Linked DNA regions of Homo sapiens. The protein of the gene in region 3 interacts with the protein of the main gene of each other region in a pairwise test. Each region holds a gene or a part of one and is shown on either strand. Other genes may lie near its edges. The genes, in order: TMEM45B, SLC23A2 and NSG1.

Evidence for each region.
Region 1: the proteins of NSG1 (region 3) and TMEM45B interact in binary tests that used the Homo sapiens proteins (3 or more experiments, as listed by UniProt).
Region 2: the proteins of NSG1 (region 3) and SLC23A2 interact in a two-hybrid assay, tested with the Homo sapiens proteins (one large-scale study listed by BioGRID).

What each region holds. Positions count from the first base shown.
Region 1 is NC_000011.10:129,818,744-129,822,394, forward strand, and holds part of TMEM45B (transmembrane protein 45B), read left to right. Parts: intron 1-3,651.
Region 2 is NC_000020.11:4,991,428-4,995,078, forward strand, and holds part of SLC23A2 (solute carrier family 23 member 2), read right to left. Parts: intron 1-3,651. UniProt on the Homo sapiens protein: Sodium/ascorbate cotransporter. Mediates electrogenic uptake of vitamin C, with a stoichiometry of 2 Na(+) for each ascorbate.
Region 3 is NC_000004.12:4,393,598-4,397,248, reverse strand, and holds part of NSG1 (neuronal vesicle trafficking-associated protein 1), read right to left. Parts: intron 1-3,651.

The DNA.
Region 1 (3,651 bases), on a different chromosome or scaffold from region 3:
CCATCTTTGTTCCATATAATTACAAAAATATCTTAGAGCTGAGTATAACCTTAAAGATTGTCAAGTCCAATCTTGTGGTTTTTCAAGGAAGAAAACCGGATTTAAGAAAAATAAAGCAAGTACCTCATGTTGCTTCCCCAAATCTACTTCATTGGAGAATTACAGCTAAAAACAATGTTCAGATTTTTGCTCCTTCTGTCATGTGGTCCCTTGAGAATTTGCCAAATGTATAAATCCAGTGACTTATTTTGATGTACTCTTTTGGTTTGAGGTCTGTGACAGCAAACATAACCTCCTTGAATCCCAGCCTCAAATGCCTATGGACCTTCTGTTCTAACTGTTATTATAACTGTAGCCGTTATTATAGTGGCTAAAGTTCTAACTTCTGTTCTAACTGTGCTCCTGGTTCCATGACAAAGAGAGCTTTACTTGTCTTATTCCTAGCACAGTGCCCATAGCAGGCATACATAAAATGTGGTATGTCAGATAAACATCTGAAAAAGTGTGAGATGTCATTAGACGTTCATTCAGCTACAAGAACAGAAAACCCTACTACAGCGGCTTAAACAAGTAAGGAGTTTGTTTTTCTCAGAGAACGAGAAGTCTGGAGGTGAGAAGGCTGGGGCTGGGAAAGGGGTTCCGATATGAACGTCATCTGAGACAGGCTCCTTGTGTCTTCCCGCACCACCCTCCTTAGCATGGAGCTTTCATACTCACTTCCGCAAGTTGCAGCAGAAAGACGGGCAGAGGCATGCTCCAGAAGAGTCTTGTCTTGTCTTTTCTTTTCTTTTCTTTTCTCTCTTCTTTTCTTTTCTCTCTCTCTCTCTCTGTCTCATCTCTTTCTTTCTTTTGACTCAGAGTCTCTCTCAGTGGCACAATCTCGGCTCACTGCAACCTCCGCTTCCTGGGTTCAAGTGATTCTCCTGCCTCAGCCTCCAAGTAGCTGGGATTACAGACGTGCACCACCACGCCCAGCTAATTTTTGTATTTTTAGTAGAGACGGGGTTTCACCATGTTGGTCAGGCTGGTCTTGAACTCCTGACCCTGTGATCTGCCCCCCTCGGCCTCCCAAAGTGCTGGGATTACAGATGTGAGCCACCACGCCTGGCCTGTCCTTCTTTATAATAAATAATAATAATAACAGCTTTTCTGGTAGCCCACCCCAAAAGACTTCTTACATGTCATTGGCCAGAACCATATCACATACACACTGTTAACGGTGACGGAACCAGAGAGAATCTAGTGTTTGAGACAGACACGTTGCCAATACATCAAAATAAGAATTTTGGGCCAGACACAGTGGCTCACGCCTGTAATTCCAGCATTTTGGGAGGTCAAGGCGGGTGGATCACCTGAGGTCAGGAGTTCAAGACCAGCCTGGCCAACATGGTGAAACCCCATCTCTACTAAAAACACAAAAAATCAGCCGGGCGTGCTAGCAGGCGCCTATAGTCCCAGCTACTCAGGAGGCTGAGGCAGGAGAATCGCTTGAACCCAGGAGGCAGAGGTTGCAGTGAGCCGAGATCATGCCACTTGCACTCCAGCCTGGACAACAAGAGCGAAACTCCATCTCAAAAAAATAATAATAACAACAAAATAGGAATTTTGTTAATAAGGCGGGGGGAGAATGAACATTGGGTAGGCAGCTAGCAGCATCTGCCATAGTGTGTTTTATGAGTCATAGATCCTGTCTCTAAATAGGTTGTTATTTGTTTTGGTTTTTTGTTTGTTTTACTAAAAAGCAATGGGTAATGCAGTGGGTCCAGGGGAACTTTTTTAAATGGTAGAGTGCAAGGACCACTCTGAGAACTGCTGATTATGTAGGTCTGGGCTGGGTCTATAATTCTCCATTATGGACGGGCACGCCAGGTCATCTGAGGGCAGGTGGTTGCGGGAATACATTTTGAGAAACACCGAATGTCAGGTAGTTTAGCAAAAGCGACTTTATTTTATTTCTGTTAGCTTTTTGCCTCACTCCTCTTGAGGGTATACTTTATTTTTTAATTATCTGCTTTGGTCAACATAAATCAATGTATAGTCTTAGAAGTCGTTCATTGTAGAAGGTTTTCATTGAGTTTATACTGAGTATAGAACCCTAGCGGCAATTACTTTCAATGCTTTGGGTTGTGTTTTTCTGATATTACCATATTCTAAATAGCATGCAGATACGGGCCATTTCTTCTTCTCTTTTCCAGTTCTGGATGACATCTATTGACATCCTACCAAGAAGGATGAGGGTTTCGCTCCTTTACACCCCCACCCTCCCTCTCACCTTCACATCCCTTTCTTTTAAGTTCCCAGTACGGTTATATCCTAAATTTTTGATATGTCAATGTTTGGTGTATATATTATTCCCAACTAAGGCACATGATACACCATGATCTTTACATTTCCCTTCTTGACCAGTCTTTCCCCCAACCCCCTGGAATGGGGTGTAGGAGTTGCTACATTTTCTTTAGTTGTTTGAGAACTCATCACCAAGAAGTCATTTCCTGGAGCCAAGGAAACTCATGGGGGCCCTCTGAGTGCTGCTAATTGCATGGAGCTGTTGAGTGGGGAGGAAACGCCAGGCCGCCATCAAGAAGCATTTGGGGTAAATTTTCCAAGCACATCTGAAAAGACAGAGTCTAGAACCTCCACGGTCCCTGTCTGTTGTGATTTATTTTCTCATTCTAAATACACACACACTTTTTTTTTCTGTCTAGGCCATCTCTTGTGGAATACATATGTACTTTCATACCCAATTATGTACAGTTTTTGTAATTTTACGCCTTTTTCTTAAAGAAGGCTCCCAAAAGTGTATAAGATTCAGGCCCCATAAGATGCGGTTGCTTTTTGAGCTTGTGCCCATTTGAGATGTCACTTTTCTTCCTTCACACTTGCTTGCTGGTTTGGCTGGGTATGGGATATTAATCAGAAATCATTTCCCGTACGAATTTTGAAAACATTGCTCTATTTTATTCTACTTTCTTACGGTGCTGTTGAGAGGCTGATGCCATTCTAATTCCTGATCCCTTGTATTTTGTTCTAATCTCTGGGCATTTGTAGGGTTTTCTTTATTGTTCATATTCTGATATTTCATGATGTTGTTATTTAATGTTGGGGTGGGTTTTTTGGCGGGGTGGGGGGAATACAGGGAGGTATCCGTCACTGTCCTAAGTATTTTCTAGGCCTTTTCAATCCAAAAAGTACATTCTTCAGTTCTGAGTGGTTTTCTTCTGTTATATAATTTCCTCGTTCTTTCTTTCTGAAACTTAAATTACTTAGACTGAATCTGAAAATGGGATCTCTTGGATCTGTCTTGTAATTTTATCTTTTTTATTTTAAAAAATATCCCATGTTTTTTTAGTTCTAATAAATCTTCCAACAATGCTATTAAATGTTTACATTCTACCATTATATTTTTAATTCTCAGGAGCTTTTATTGGCGAGAGGTGTGGTCTTCTGAATGGTTTTTACAGTATCCTGTTCTCATTTCATGAACGCAGCATCTTCTCTTCTTTCTCCAAGCATATTAACTCAGTACTTTTTCTACATTTTAGAAGTTTTCTTCAGCTACCTACAATGTCTGTGTCTATTTTTAAAGTGACGTTTAATGTTGCTTTTGGCCTGCCTTTCACGTTGGAAGCTTTATACATGTTTGGGGATGGT
Region 2 (3,651 bases), on a different chromosome or scaffold from region 3:
AAGAATAAGTAATCAGCCAGGCATGGTGGCTCATGCCTCTAATCCCAGCACTTTGGGAGGCCGAGGCAGGTGGATCACAAGGTCAGCAGTTCAAGACCAGCCTGACCAATACGGTGAAACCCCATCTCTACTAAAAATACAAAAATTAGCTGGGTGTAGTGGTGCACACCTGTAATCCCAGCTACTCAGGAGGCCGAGGCAGGAGAATTGCTTGAATCCAGGAGGCGGAGGTTGCAGTGAGCTGAGATCACACCACTGCACTCCAGCCTGGGTGACAGAGAGAGACTCCGTTTCACACACACACACACACACACACACACACACACACACACACACAAAAGTAATCTATAGACCACATATTAGGAAAAATCTAGAGACACTGACTTTTTCTGTTCATACACAGAACAAGTCAATATTATAAAGATGACAAGTCTCCCCAAATTAACTTATGCATTTAATGAAATTTCCCATTAACAGTATTTTGACAGCCTGGCCAACATGGTGAAACTCTGTCTCTACTAAGAATACAAAAATTAGCCAGGCGTGGTGGCACATGCCTGTAATCCCAGCTACTCGGGAGGCTGAGGCAGGAGAATCACTTGAACCTGGGAGGCAGAGGTTGCAGTGAGCCGAGATCGCGCCATTACACTCAAGCCTGGGGGACAGAGTGAGACTCCATCTCAAGATGGAGGGAGTATTTTGAAACCCTAAATTGAAAAACACTGGAGTAAAAACTGAGCATAGGCACTACCAGATAATAAAGCCTACTATAAAGTGATTTTAATGTCTAAAATAGTAAGGTCATGGCAAAAGAACAGATAAACTGACTAAAACAACAGATCCAAGGATTCAGCATATGATTAAGGTGTTATTTTTTAAGTTAATAAGGATGAATTAATAGTACCCAAAAAATATAAACTAGAGGGGACAAATAATCCTTACTTCATACCATACTCCAAAACAAATATCAGACTAATTATAGCCAATTTTTTTTTAAAGAACTAAGAGAAAACATGAGTGAATACCTATAAAATTTAGGGATAACAAAGCCATGGGAAATAAAAAAAGATTGACAGTTTTTTTTTTTTTTTTTTTTTGGAGACGGAGTTTTTCGCTCTTGTTGCCCAGGTTAGAGTGTAATGAGGCGATCTTGGCTCACTGCAACCTCCACCTCCCGGGTTCGAGTGATTCTCCTCCCTCAGCCTCCCGAGTAGCTGGGATTACAGGCATGTACTACCATGCCGGGCTAATTTTGTATTTTTAGTAGAGACGGGGTTTCTCCATGTTGGTCAGGCTGGTCTGGAACTCCTGACCTCAGGTGATCTGCCCACCTCGGCCTCCCAAAGTGCTGAGATTACAGGCATGAGCCACCGCGCTTGGCCAACAGACTTGAATTTAAGTCAAGGCATAGAAAAAAATATTTGCAAAGTAGGACAAAAAAATGCAAATCTTAACACAGGTTGAGTATTCCTAATTCAAAAATCCAAAATTTGAAAGGATCCAAAATTTGAAAGGCTCCAAAATTCAGTACTTTCTGAGTGCCAACAAGACACTCAAAAGAAAATGCTCAGCCTGGCGCAGTGGCTCATGCCTGTAATCCCAGCACTTTGGGAGGCCGAGGCAGGTGGATCACGAGGTCAGGAGATCGAGCCCATCCTGGCCAACACAGTGAAACCCCGTCTCTACTAAAAACACACACACAAAAAATTAGCCAGGCATGGTAGCGGGCGCCTGCAGTCCCAGCTCCTAGGGAGGCTGAGGCAAGAGAATGGCATGAACCTGGGAGGTGGAGCTTGCAGTGAGCTGAGATCGTGCCACTGCACTCCAGCCTGGGCGCGCCACTGCACCCCAGCCTGGGCGACAAAGCAAGACTCCGTCTCAAAAAAAAAAAAAAAGGAAACGCTCACTGAAGCATTCTGAATTTCAGATTAAAAAATTAGGAATGCTCAACTGGTAAGTATAGTGCAAATATGCCAAAATCCGAAAAAAAAAAAAGAAAAAAAGAAACCCAAAATCCAAAACACTTTCTAGTCATAAGCACTTCGGAGAAGGTATATTCAACCTGTACGTGTTTCTCAAGCAGGTCAAGATCAAAAACAATGTATCTAGTAGCATCAACTTTACTCAAAGAACATGGAAGAAAAATGTTTTATATTAAAACAAGCACTGATGTTTCTGAAACAGAATGAGAAATTCACATTAATTTTAGATAAAACAGAAGAGACTTAAAAGAAGTGTCATGCTTGTTATATTCCAAACACTTTTAAATATGCATACATTCCCCCATATCATGCATCTGTGGAAAAATTTGTGAAGCAATGTCTATAAATATAAATATCAAAAAAGCTCTTGATAAGAAATATATGAACTTGGGCTGGGAACAGTGGCTCACGGCTGTAATCCCAGAACTTTAGGAGGCTTGAGCTCAAGAGTTCGAGACCATCCTGACCAACACAGGAGACCCCCATCTCTAAAAACATAGTGAAACCCTGTCTCTACAAAAAATACAACAATTAGTTGGGTGTAGTGGTACATGCCTGTAGTCCCAGCTACTCAAGAGGCTGAAGTGGGAGGATCTCTTGAGCCCGGGAGGCAGAAGCTGCAAGTGAGCAGAGATCTCACCACTGCACTCCAGCCTGGGTGACAGACCCTGTCTCAAAAAATATAGATACATGAATTCAATAGAAAATTCTCAGCACTGACCACATATACCTTACTGTGAAGCAGGATCACCAAACTTTTTCTGTAAAGGGCCAGAGTTACATGGTCTCTTGAGTGAGCTTGGCTGTGTTGCAATTAAACCTTATTTACAAAACCAGATGCTGGTGATGCCTCCACCAGCAACATCCCTGTCACCTGAGAACTTGTGAGAAATGCACATTTTCGGGGTCCACCCTAGATCTTCAGAATGAGATCCATGTTTGACAAGGAAGGTGTTGTAGTTAGCCCCCAGCTAGGTGATCTGCCTTTGGAGACAGGAAATGATTTTAGCCAGCCCTGGAGAGGAGTCAATAAAGCCAAACCGAATTTGAGGCTGAAATCCCATCTAAAGTAGAATGTATAAGAAATTGTGTTGGCCAGGTGCGGCGGCTCACACCTGTAATCTCAGCACTTTGGGAGGCTGAGGCAGGTGGATCACGAGGTCAGGAGTTCGAGACCAGCCTGAACAATACGGTGAAACCCCGTCTCTACTAAAAATATGAAAATTAGCCAGGCGTAGCTACTCAGGAGGCCGAGGCAGAAGAATCGCTTGAACCCATGAGGCGGAGGTTTCAGTGAGCCGATATCGCACCACTGCACTCCAGCCTGGGCGACAGAGCAAGATTCCGTCCCCAAAAAAAATATGAAAATACAAAAATTAGCCAGGCGCAGTTGCAGTGACCGTAATCCCAACTACTCAGGAGGCTGAGGCAGGAGAATCGCTTGAACCTAGGAGGTGGAGGTTGCAGTGAGCCAAGATCGCACCATTGCACTCTAGCCTGGGCAACAAGAGCAAAACTCTGTCTCAAAAAAAAAAAGAAAAAAGAAAGAAAGAAAGCAATTGTGTTTCCTTCATGAAGACTGAGGACACAGCAGTGCTTTCGGTCTGAAGCAGGGTGGAGAAGACCCTCAGAGTCACAAAGCCAAGAACTCTGAGATGAAATGATGGTC
Region 3 (3,651 bases):
TGGCTGCTGTTACTCTCCCCATCCTCCTACCCTCAGGCGGAGGGAGAAGGAAATGAGCATTTCTGCTGAGTAATTCAGTTTAAAAAAAAAAAAAAAGGAAAAAACTTGGAAAAAGAAGATGAATCCCGACATCTTCAAGCGTTTACAGCACTAAATATTTTAGGTAACCCACACAAAAGTGAATACATACACACACACACACACACACAGATGACTGAACCCACGTGGTATCTGATTCAGCCGAAGCCCCCACACTACAGCTAGCCTGGGGAAGGTGGGCTCTGCAACCACAGCCCCAGGATCCTACAAGATGCTCGCATAGCTAAAGGTGAGGGGGCGTCCACACACACCTTCAGGGTCTCCAATACCACCCCCACGGGAAGAACCCCCACCCCCACTGCTGAATGCCAAGGAAACGGCATCACTCTTCATAAATATTTAAGAAATGCATCTTGAAACACACCAGGGGCTTACTGGAGAATGTGGAAACAGATGCGCACGCAGGAAGCTCAAGGTCATTAGGGAACACACCAGGGGCTTACTGGAGAATGTGGAAACAGATGGGCACGCAGGAAGCTCAAGGTCATTAGGGATGTGAAGAAAAGACACAAACCACCCACAGAGTCCTCTGCGACAGGATGCAGAGGGACGTCCCCACCAGAGTCTGGACTGCCAACCAGGGGGACCACGCAGACTAACGAGGGCTCTCCTGCCAAGTCACTCCCCAGCCCTGTGCTGGCGGTGAAAGGTGTTCCCGTGCAAAGCCGACCTTCAGATCTCTCAAGGCCCCAGGGTGACATGGTACCCGGTGAGGGTCAAGGCTGGACCACCCAAACCTGACCTCACATCACAGGCAAACAGGGTGTGGAGACCTCTCCAGCGTCAGCAACCGGTCATCACCGGAATCACGAAGCACGAAGGGCTGGAGCGGGCCCTGAGGGAGCCTTCCTGTCACCTGTCTGATGACGGCCCCTAATGACAGTCTCCAGACCGGAAGGAGAACTGCAAGCAGCGGCCCCAGCAGCCCCGACCCGCCACTCTGCAGGCATCAGTGGGGAAGTGCAATTTCAAAAATGTTTAGGTTTGGTTGAGAAACATCTCAGCCAGTGTTTATTCTCACTGTAAATATGCCTCCAGTTAATTAAGCGACTGCTTTCCTTGACAAGAACCTCTTTGGAAGCCCAAGCAGCTGGCCGCCGCTGGGGGAGTCCTCCTGCCATCCCGTGTGGCGGAGTCTCTCAGAACCTTCTCCCAGTCAGCAGTTACCTAGCAACCAGCCTAGTAACCTCACAGCCAAGAGATTAATCCCCAAGTGACAATCAGAAAGCTGCATGCAAAAAGACACTCCGTTTCAAGGATGCCATCCAAACGCCTATAAAGATGAGGTGCTTCTGAGCTACACAAATTGGAGAGAGGAGGGGACAAACGATTTACCTGTCACTTCAAGATCGGAAAGGCGAGATTCCATTCCTGCAATTCATGCATGGAGATGAAAGAGCTAAGATGATGGCTGGGCCAGGGAGCTGCACAGAAGCTGTCCAGTCACTAGTGGGACGAGGAAGATGCTCTGTCCCAACCACAGCTTCGACTGGGCCCTGGCAGGGGGGTACACAAGCCAGGGAGGGTGAATCTCTATTGCGGACCCTCCATCATGCCCGTGTCTCCAGCATAGCCTGCTCCCCATATGCTCCCGTTTCAGAAAGAGAGACCCGCCCAGCCCTCAACCAGCTGCAGCTTCACACACGCCTCATTGTGTGCACGCGTTCAGGGATGCCAGAAATCTAACTGGGTAATAAAAAGCTGGGAGAACATTCCAGAAAGGTGGGCACCCTTAGCATTCCCAAAAAGCACCAGCCCTCCTCATCCTTCCCAGCTTCTGTGCTGGAATGCACCCCCATCGGAAAGGCTCGAAAACTCAGGACACATTAGGATCACCTGGAAAGCATTTGTCAAAACGCATCTCCCTGCGGTTCAGGGTCCAAGTTAAAATCAAACTTCAGGTGATGCTGACTCAGGTGGCTCCAGAAACACCTGGGGAAGCAGCACTTTGGAGGCTGCCTCTCACATCCACCCCACAGCAAGTGGGCAGGGAGCTAGGTAAATCTCCTTCCCAGTTGAGAAGGGGCTCGGAGCAGGCACAGAGAAGAGATGCCCTTAGAATGCAAGTTGTTCAGCTGCGAAAGTCCAGCCTGCAGGCTTCCTGGGCAAGCTAGTGGGCTGAAGTATGCCACAGCAACAGGCTTCTAGAGCCGGCTGCCCAGCTCCTACTCTGCCTCTGCCACTCACTGACTGTGTGGTCTTGAGCAGGTCACCTGTCTGACTTGGTGAGAGCTGACAGGCATCACCTGTTAGAGGCTTACGCGTAAGCATGGCCCCGAGAGAGGCTTCAATCCAATGAGCTGCCAGCTGAACTTACTCAACAAGCAAGGACCCACGGGCAGACCCAGGAAATCTCGCCAAGTACCCCATTCATGGGAGGCCAGCAGCACAATTAGTCATCCATTTACTTATCAAGCTGTTACTGTGTGTGCAAGAAGCGCCAGAGAGATGATATCAAGGAGCTCTTACCATGGCTGGCATAGAGCGGCTGATGAGTAAGTTCCGTCTGCACAAAGAGTCCCTAAGCATTCATTCTTGGCTGACATTCTTGGCTCAGGGGGTCTCCATGGCCTTGTTCCCCTCCTCGGGTCACCAGTTCAGGTCGAGGGGGCCTATGCTTGGAAGGGCCACACCAATGGACCTTGCCAGGACACCCAGTCACAGGTTTCACACCCAAAGAGAAGACAGCCCAACCCAGACCCTCAAAAGAGAGCACCTGGGGGAAGGGAGCGTGGAAACCAGGACTCAGAAAGACACAAGAGAAAAAGAAGCTGTACACTGGGGAGGCTTCCGGGGTACCTGTGCCTGCCATGTCTCTGAAGGCCTTGGGGATGGGGAAGGAGGGCGCCGCACATTCTGTGTGGCTCAAGGCAGCAGAGCAAGGGTTTTGAATCAACAAAGGAAAAGGATTTGAAGAAGTGGAATGGCTCAACAGCGATGGCGCCTGGGGTGAGTGCTCCCACACAAACCCACTTCTCCAAGAAACCAAGGACCTCTGGTGCCACAGCCAAGAGCAGGCTGCCAAGGCTCTCTGCCTCAGTTTCCCCTCTATGTAAAATGGAGCTATAAGGGCGCCTACCTCCTGAGGTGTTTATGAAGATTAAATGAGACAATATGAGCATTAGGAGTGTGAAGCAGAGTCTAGCTCATGGATCACTCCGTCACTGTTAGATGCCATTGCAGCCTGGCTACAAAAGGCACTGGAAACAGGGCGGTGAGGTCTGTTGCAAATGAGAGTGACCCAGGAGGCTTCCTGGCAGAGGTGTGATCTGCACCTGCCCTGGGAGGAGATGGAAGGGATGGGGTCTGGGAAGCAGCAGGCGTCCCATGGGAGTGGGGAGGGATGTGGTGCAAGGTATGTTGGGAAGGCCTTGGCTTTGAAGCTAGAGAGTCACAGAGGGAGCACCCCAGCCACCCTGGGACCACCTGGGACTCAACAGCCTTACGTGTAAAGGGGCCGATGCCACCCCTTCAGGGCAGTTGTGAATCATAAAGGAGGAAAAGAAAACTAAGCAGAGGAACACACCCAGCAGACTTAGTCCAGTATAGTCA